Linked DNA regions of Homo sapiens: region 1 is linked to region 2. The links come from fine-mapping of genetic effects on gene expression. A gene starts in region 2. The other region holds a variant in brackets. All regions are shown on one strand. Distances are from middle to middle. Region 1 overlaps RCL1 (RNA terminal phosphate cyclase like 1). Region 2 holds the start of RCL1 (RNA terminal phosphate cyclase like 1).

The links. PIP is the estimated chance that this variant, and not a neighbour inherited with it, causes the effect.
Region 1: its variant is the best candidate, but not a certain one, in a credible set for the expression of RCL1 in whole blood (TOPMed, PIP 0.52).

The regions. Positions count from the first base shown.
Region 1 is chr9:4,842,118-4,846,506 of GRCh38, reverse strand. It overlaps RCL1 (RNA terminal phosphate cyclase like 1), which reads right to left. Exons shown (of 9, transcript NM_005772.5): 7 at 1,826-1,982. Among named protein-coding and RNA genes, the nearest start is that of MIR101-2, 6.0 kb to the left of the region's middle. RefSeq lists a silencer at 3,904-4,198. The variant A/G (reference allele first, on the strand shown) is at 2,293.
Region 2 is chr9:4,790,771-4,795,159 of GRCh38, reverse strand. It overlaps RCL1 (RNA terminal phosphate cyclase like 1), which reads right to left and starts at 2,216. Exons shown (of 9, transcript NM_005772.5): 1 at 1,933-2,216. The coding sequence starts at 2,068. RefSeq lists enhancers at 1,466-1,965, 2,040-2,089, 2,910-2,959 and a silencer at 2,170-2,529.

The DNA of each region.
Region 1 (4,389 bases), 51 kb before region 2:
CTACCCCAAACTTTTAGTTACTACCCATTTTTCACAAAATTATTAAATTTAGCATAAAAAAGTAAACTGATTTAGCACCAAAACATCTGAGGCCAGATCGTGACTGCACAAGACTTGTCAAAGAATACCTCCTCCTTCAGGAAGATTTCATCTCCTTCTTCTACTATTTCCCAGGTGAATGCCGAGTAGAGGGGCTGGAGCTACTCTCCTGAAAATAAAACTATAGGTCCACTGTCTTCCATTTTTAATTAGATGGTCATTAAATAGAGCCATTTAGGACCTGGAAATTTAATTAATTCTGAAACAGCTCATTCTCATGTGTTCCATCTTGGACCAATGAGACATTTTCAAGAACACTGACTTGGATCAAGGGAGTAGACTATAAATATAAGCTGTTTTCCACTGTGAGGCTGGTCTGAGGATCAATACCTATGGCTAGTCAGGCTTTACCCTACCACCCTGATTAATAAACTGAACCAGTGGCAAAAGGAAGAATTAAAAGAAAAACTAAATTGCCACTTTACCTGTTTTACTGATTTTATTTAACTTGGCTCAGATGTGATTTTTGCTACCATAAACGAGAAAACTTACTTGGAGACCAGAAAGATGCCTGACAACTGAGAAGAAATACACAGAACAATACAAAGAAAGAAGTCTCTTCAGCTCCTTAGGGGAAGAAGAGAGATGATTTACAAACATTATACACCATACAACAGCAAATCAACTAGAGTATAGTTCTTGCTGATGCTCAGTTCAAGAATCTGGGACCTAACACACAGAGCAGAGAAACGACCATCCTTCAGAGCCTTTCCTGGACTCTGCATGTCAGAGAAAAGGTTTCACCTTCTTGATGTGGGACCAAGGCAAAAGACGGTGCAGACTAACAGAAATCTTGGACCCAGATTTGTGACCCTCTTCTAACCAAGTATAGGGGATCTCAGGGAATATATCTTTTAGGAAACTGTATCTTATTCTTTCTGCCATCATCTTTCCAAATTTCTCCCTTACTTTAGGTCACCTCACCTATTTTGAGGAAACAGTAAAAGTGTGTGCATGCATATGTGCCCGTTGCAATGAAAGGATCAACAGAGAAAGACTGTGGCAACTGAGAGGGCAAATTGGTCTCAGCTGTGTCCCACCAGCAGACCTGCAGAAGCAAAATGACAACTGGTTGAGTCTGTCTTCAACATCAGTTTACCCCTTCTCTGTTCCATGTTCTTAGGTTTTCCAAAGCTTCTGCTATGCTGTGCCACAGGCCTGCCTTCCCTAGTTATTCTGTGCTTTTTTAAATTTTTTTCTTCTTTTCTAATACTTATCTGTTAACTGAGATTCTGTGCTCTAGAATGCATTGCAAAATCTAGCCTGTTGCTATTGTTTTATATATGAATCAACTGTCACATACAAATCCAGATTTCTAGCTTCTCTTAAAAGATCTAAAAAGAATGAGTCCATCTTCCCACATGGCAGCAATCGGGGGGTGCCGGGATGGTACTCTCTTTGGCTAGGGCAGTGTGTCAGCCACCACCTTACCTTACCTGCTTCCTTTTTTTAACCTTCCCTTTCCTTTATGACTGTTCCAGTTCTTTCCTTGGCTCACTGTTAAAACTTACCTGCCCTGTGTCTCAACCCAGTGGGGCTAGATCTCTACTCACTGACTGGTTGAGCTAATCAATTAAACTAGTTAAGGCTGAACTGCTTAATGCACAGGAACAGATTATCTCCTTGGCTTGAGCCCTTGGAAGAGGACGAAAGCTGCCAAGAGATGAGAATGAGAAAACAAACTGCTTCCTGGTCACTCCTCTATCAGAGGAAGCTGTGGACATACCCTGTAGATTTCCTCCAGCAGCAGCCGGGCACAGTTCCTGCCAAGGTCCTCTGGAAGTACTGCTGCTCCCTGGCCCTGGGGGTTGGAGGCCAGTTCAGCACTGAGGAAGGTGCCACTGGTGGTCTCAGCAACCAGTGACAACCCAAAGCCCGGAGACCTGGAGATACAAAGGCACAAACACTGAGTAGGTTTAACCAAGTGAGGTTTCCACTCACCAGCAAACGGAAAGAGAAGACAAACATTTTTTTTGACGGCACTGTGTTCAAAGGCTTCTTTCTGGCTGCATTAACCTCATAGAGTTGCTACTAGTTTACTAGCTGACCAGAAAAGAAAATCAGTCCAAAAACAAGCATCTCTCCACAAAATTTTAAGATTTGACAGCTCAATTCTACTTTCCCAATGACTGTTAAGTAGACACATCAACAGGAAAGGTGTGGCGGCCTTCCCAGCAGTACAATCCGTATGCA[A/G]CCACAACACAGACCTGCCCCCTTTAACACAACTCAACACACGCTCACACAATACTTTCTATGTGTCTGGCAGGAGACTAGCCAAAATACTTGTTTCACTAAAACTATGTATAAAATTAATGTTTCGAATGCACTATATGAGCTCACTATATAGAAGAACTATGTTAGTCAGTCCTTAGATTCTTAAGGAAAAAAAAAATTTGCTTGTCTATGCAGTCGAAGGTTAACAACACCTGCCAAGGAAAGGGGGTGCAGTGAGTTACCCATTTCATCAAAGGTTCTGGGAGGCACTCTGAGTTATGCTTAACAATCTAACACTGTGCTATCCACCTATCATCATGGGACACCTAGAGAATTTTAGCATAATCCCAAATTGCCTTTGAGTCACCTGACCAGCAGAAGTGAGAGGGTGTCCAGCAGTGGCTGCAGGCAGTGGCATACAAAAGTGAAGATTAGAAGATGAAGGGGAGAGAAAGCAAGACAAGGTGCCACTGCTGCTTTACCCATTTACCTGCATTTCCCAAGAATTTCCATCTGTGTGAGTTTTCTAAGGTGTATTTGTCATTACGATAAACTTTATATTTAATCAGAATTATTCCATTTAACACAATTTAAGTAACTTTAGAAAAGACAAAGAATATATATTAGGTTCTATGTAAATTACTCTAATTTTTCTTCCCAACTTGTGGGAAATATGTGTTATCAGGCCTATTTCAAGTTAGGCTGACCAAGCTGCTGGTCATCAGGTGACCTCATTAGAGATATGCACTGGTATAGTTTGCAAAGGCCAGCCTCCACAGCTTTCCTTGGTAAAGGACCCAATTAAGAAAAAAAAAAATTACTGTGAGAGTTAAAATGGGACCACACTGGACTGATGTGCATTCTGGCCAAAGCGCTGACATAGGCCACCAAGAAGTGCTGTCCCCTAAGGTTCTAGGCCATGGCCACAACATAAACTCTTACATCTGAACAAGCCTGACTTACTGGATACTTCACTGAATCAGAAGAGAGAAATACCCATCCATGACTTTATAATTTTAATAACAGAGAAGGAAGAGCACTATTAGTCATCTGTAACTGGAGATTTAAAAAAACCAAACACAAATTTAAATCCCACATTGGTTTTACATGTAATTTTTAAAATGGGGCTTGGAGTTGATGGCCCACAGTCTACATCATGTCCATGTCTTTATCTACGTGTAAGGCTTCTACTCACCATTAGTAAGTATGGACTTGACCACACTCTAGGGTCAGCTGAGTCAGTGGTATAACAAAAAGCCACACTATAAGCTGGTGGCAGGATGGCTGTCAGGCCTGCTCTGCTTCATGCCAGGACACTTTCTGATAAAGCGAGAGGCAAAGCAGAGAAGGGACTATCGAGATGAAGCCATTTAGACAGCTTCTGCTGCTATCTGTCCTCCCCCATCCCTCGGAAATCCCCTTTCTCCAGAAAATAGCTGACACATAATTCCAGACCTGTGGCCAACAAGGGAGAGTAAAGGAAAGAACAGCATCAGGAGCTACCATTTCTGTAGGACTTACCATGTGACAAGCAAGGTATTAATGGCTTATATGTGTGATCTTTACAATAACCCCAAAACATAGGCATCATCACCCTCAATGCATAAATGAGGAAAATACTGTTGTTACTAGAATATAAACCAAAGGTTTAGGAACATCATTGACTTTTCCAAGCCAGAAAGTCCAGCTTTGCCCACAAATCCTTTCCCAACCCCAGCGTTATGACGCCACCAGCTTTGTTGCTTTGGACTATGAGCCTCCACTGTATTTCTAAAACTACCTTCATCTTTCCATTGGGCCTTATAAAGGTCAAAGGTTGTATAAAACACTCACCCCCCTCCTTTACTCTCTTTTCCTCTTTTTGCTGAAATTAAAAGAAACCACAGGTGAAACAGCTGTGAAAAAGGATCAGCTGTGGCATCACTTAAGAAGAAGTTGACTTCTTAACCTACAACAGTTAACCCCAGACTCTAATATTCTTATTTTTAGGAGACACAACCTGCAAAGCCTCAGATGTGAAGTGAAATGATGCCCATTCACACTGAAATGATTCAGTAAAAAACAAAAACAAACAAA
Region 2 (4,389 bases):
GTTGCAGTGAGCCGAGATCGCACCACGGCACTCCAGCCTGGGAGACAGAGTAAGACTCTGTCTCAAAAAAAAAGAAAGAAATTAAGCAGACAAACATCTACAAGGTTTCTGAGGCCCTGAAGCCAGCGCAAGGATGTACAAATAACTAGGAGTCTCTTTCTTCCCCTGGTATATGAACGGGGTAAGGCAAATAATGCTCTACAGTAATGTTCCCCATAAAATACCAGCACACCTGCCAAGCAGTTCTACCTCCCTCAGGTATCAGCGTCTGACACCCTTTCAAGAAAGTGCCAAGTGGCCAAGCCCTGTTCTTGGAAGAAACGGGAGCTCATATGTGTGAGATGCTTTGAAGAGATGCTCACATACAGTGGAGGGGGAGAAGGAGAAGCATACTTTGGAACATTAAATATTAAATTGGAGGCCACCTGTCAATAGAAAAACTCTAAATAGAACTAGATTCATTTTAGAGAACCCAGGTTTCCAGGCTATACTTCCATTTCTCTGGAAAAAAAAAAAAAAGTTATGCCTACTTTTATACAAAGTAGAAGTCCATCTTCTTACCATATCCAGCTAGTGGCAAGTTCTCTGAGCTAACCTGAGGGTAAAGTGGATGGAGAGCTGGCTGAGAATGCCACACAGCAATCAAGCAAACACTTTGCCCAAGGGTCAAACTAAGTGGAACACTTGTTGACGGAAAAGTCGTGGCATAAACCATTTGTGGTCTCTCCCTAACTTTCTCAGTGTTTTTGAGCAGTAGAGAGAGGACAGGAACCACCAACACAAGTTTTTCCTACCATCACTAGGTTTCTCACCACTGTACCTGGGATATTCTGCTTCTTTCCTTCCTAACCTATCTCCGTCAATAGCATGGCATCTTCTGCCCTTTATGTGCAGCCAATCACCACCCAAGAGAGGCAGAGATCTAACTATCCAAAAAATGCATTCAGACAGATAAAACAAGAGCCAGTGCAAAATGAAACACATCAGCGCCGCTCAGGAAGCTTCCAGGACCAACCACAAACACTCTTTTTCAATTTACAGACAGGTTTTTTCCTTTTTCACCTGACTACTGACTCGCCCAACTTGGGATAACCACCAGTCAGAAGCTTTTAAATGCATGTATCTCATGCCAGGGGGCCAGGTGTAAACCAAGGCCAGTTGAAAACCGGCGCCATTTAATGAGATGTGGGTTTAAATGGGCCTATTTCTTTTTAACCTACCATTGCAGAGCAAGAAGTGAGCTTGGAAGCCTGCAGTTTAGCGATTGTCACCGACCCCTTTTCTAAAGTCAAGGCAATTAGGCCCATGACTGTTAAAAGTCTATCTCAAAGCTCCTGTCCTGCGCACATCAATCACAGTCACGGCTGAAAACAAACACAGAATTTTAAAAATTTCTTTATCCACACCCAAGGACAAGTGTGAGGGCAGCCGAGAAATCATGGCGACAGGAACAGCCGGTGTCCAAGGGGGCAGCTGCTTCTGAGAACTGCTTTGAGACAGGGCAGAGAACCAACCCAAGGTACTTTTCTCTCCCAATGTCTCTCCCCCGGCTCATTCACCATATTTCGGTCCAACAAACTGTTTTTCTCCTTTGAGAGGTTTATGGCGAGGGCAAGAGGGGCCGAAGGGACGCGAAGGGGCGACGCCAGGGATTTGTTGCTACACGTAAAGCTGGAAAACGTGCAGCTGTTTACTACCAGCGCCCCGGAGACGCCGAGCGCAGCTTGCAGCTGAGCGCTCCCCTCGGGCCCCGACCCCGCCTCCCCCACTGTGCCTGCCCCTCCGGCTTTGGAGGCGACGCGCCACCTGCCCTCCCCGACGCGCTCGCCGGACGCCGAGCCGCCCAACCAACACCGCGCGGGCCCCCACGGCATCAGCTCGGTCTCCCCTCAGCCCCCGCGCCCACGCCGCGCGCCGCCCACACCAAGTTACCTCGGAGGCCCGGGTTGTCGTCTCTGGCCCGAATCTTTCGGATTTTGACGGGGCGCCCGCTCAGGGTAGACAGGACCAGACGTTGGCGCAAGAAGTTGCACCCTGCGTAGCTGAGGGAGTGCGCCTGAGTCGCCATGTGCGCGCTCTCCGAAGAGACGTGAGCAGCCCGAGAGCGGCGACTTCGGACAGACGCGGGACTCGTGACTCCGATGGTGGTGGTGGCGGCGACACCGACGGCGGCGGCTCGGGCTGCCTCCAGCAGCCCAGACGCGTCCACGTGGTTTGGAACAGGAAGACGGAGAGACTAGACACCGGGTCAGAGGGGAGCGGGGCGGAGCCAGTGGCCACCTCCCCGCCTCCCCGCCCGACCGGGGCGGCCCCCGCTTCGGGCCACGCCGCTATTGGCCCGCGCCGGATCAGGGCGGTGCCCGCGCCGCGCCTCCATTGGCTTCCGCTGAAGCTGGGCGGTGCCCAAGCCGCGCTGCCATTGGTCCGTAGTGGAGCTGGGCGGTGCCCGGGCCCTGGCAACAGCGCGCGGCTGGAGGGAACGCGGGAGGATGGCCAGGGAACCCCGGCGCGGGAGTTGCCAGTCGGGGCAGTCTCCTCTGTGTACCTCCTGGCGTGGTAGCAAGGGGAGATGGCGGACTGAGATTGATGCCTACGACGTGCCGGATTCTTAGCATTACTACTTACGGCAACTACTGGGGTGAAGATGCTATTATCTACCCCTCCTCTTTCTTACTAAGAGAGACAACAAGGGTTGGTGCACTCACCCTATCGCAGGGATGCCGCTCAGCGCACTGCCGGCGCAGTCCCGCAGCTCCATGCTGTAACCCTGCAAGGTAGAGCCATCCTGTCCTACTCATGGATAAAGGCTCGAGGAATATTGCAAAGCTGACAGTGGCAGCCTATACTGAGACCCGAATCCTCCCACAGCAGGCCGTTGCTTATTTTATTGAGACACCTCTTTGCCCCTTTCTCACGGGTCCCTTCGTTTATCGTCATTGCGTTTCATGGCAATTCAGGCCCTCCTACCTCGCATGCTTCAAGATAGATAGTTGTAATAACTTCACACACACACACGCGCGCAATGCTTTTTCCCTCTTTCCCGTCCTCCTCCAATCCTGCACAAGAAAATCTTCCCAAACGTTGGATTATTTCACTTCTCTACTCAAAAACCTTCCAAAATGTACAGTTAACTAACAAATGACTACACAAGTAGAAGTCCGATATCATAGTAATGTGGGTTTGTAGCCATTCCTGGACAACACTCACCAAACCATGAGTCCCAGAATGCACGGGGGTTCGCGGGGGGAAGGGGGGCGGGGTATGATAGTGTCTGAAAGCGGTGGGAGTTTAAGATTAAGGGATGTAGCTAGCCTTATGTAGACAACAGTGTGTTATAAAGTGGAGTGGAGTGGCATGCTCATGACTCACTGCAGCCTCAACTTCCCGAGTTCTAGTAATCCTCCAACCTCAGCCTCCCCATTAGCTGGAACTACAGGTGTGCACCACCATGCTCAGCTAATTTTTGTATTTTGTATAGACATGGGTTTTTGCCATGTTACCCAGGCTGGTCTCAAACTTCTAACCTCAAGCGATTGGCCCACCTTGGCCTCACAAGTGTGAGCCACCACTCCCAGCCTTTAATCCATTTTTCTTTGATTTTTGTAAATGGCAAGAGATAGAGATCTAGTTTCACTCTTTTGCATATGGATATCCAATTTTCTCAGCATCATTTATTGAAGAGACTGTCCTTTCCCCAGAGTATGTTCTTGGCAACTTTGTCGAAAATGAGTTTACCGTAGCTGTGTGGATTTATCTCTGCGTTCTCCGCTCTGTTCTACTGATCTATGTGTCTGTTTTTATGCCAGTACCATGCCATTTTGTTTACTCTAGCTCTGTAGTATAATTTGAAGTCAGGTAATGTGATTCCTCCAGTTTTGTTCTTTTTGCTTAGGACAGGTTTGGCTATTCTGGGTCTTTTGTGGTTCCATATAATTTTTTTAATTTTTAATTTTTGTAGGTAGATGGTACATGTATATATGAGGTACGGGAGAAGTTTTGATACAGGCATGCAATGTGTGATAATCACATCCTGAAGGATAGGGTACTCATCCCCTCATGCATTTTATTCTTTGTGTTATTATACAAACAAAACAATTATACTGTTTTAGTTATTTTTAAATGAAAATTAAATTATTGTTGACTACAGACACCTTGTTGTGCTATCAAATAGTAGATCTTATTCTTTCTAATTTTTGTACACATTTATTATCCCCACCTGCCCCCCAACATCCCCACCCCCTCTATGTTTTCCAGTCTCTAGTAACCATCCTTCTACTCTCTATTTCCATGAGTTAAATTGTTTTGATTGTTTGATCCCACAAATAGGTGAGAACATGTGATGTTTTTCTTTCTGTGCCTGGCTTATTTCACTTAACATAATGATCTCCA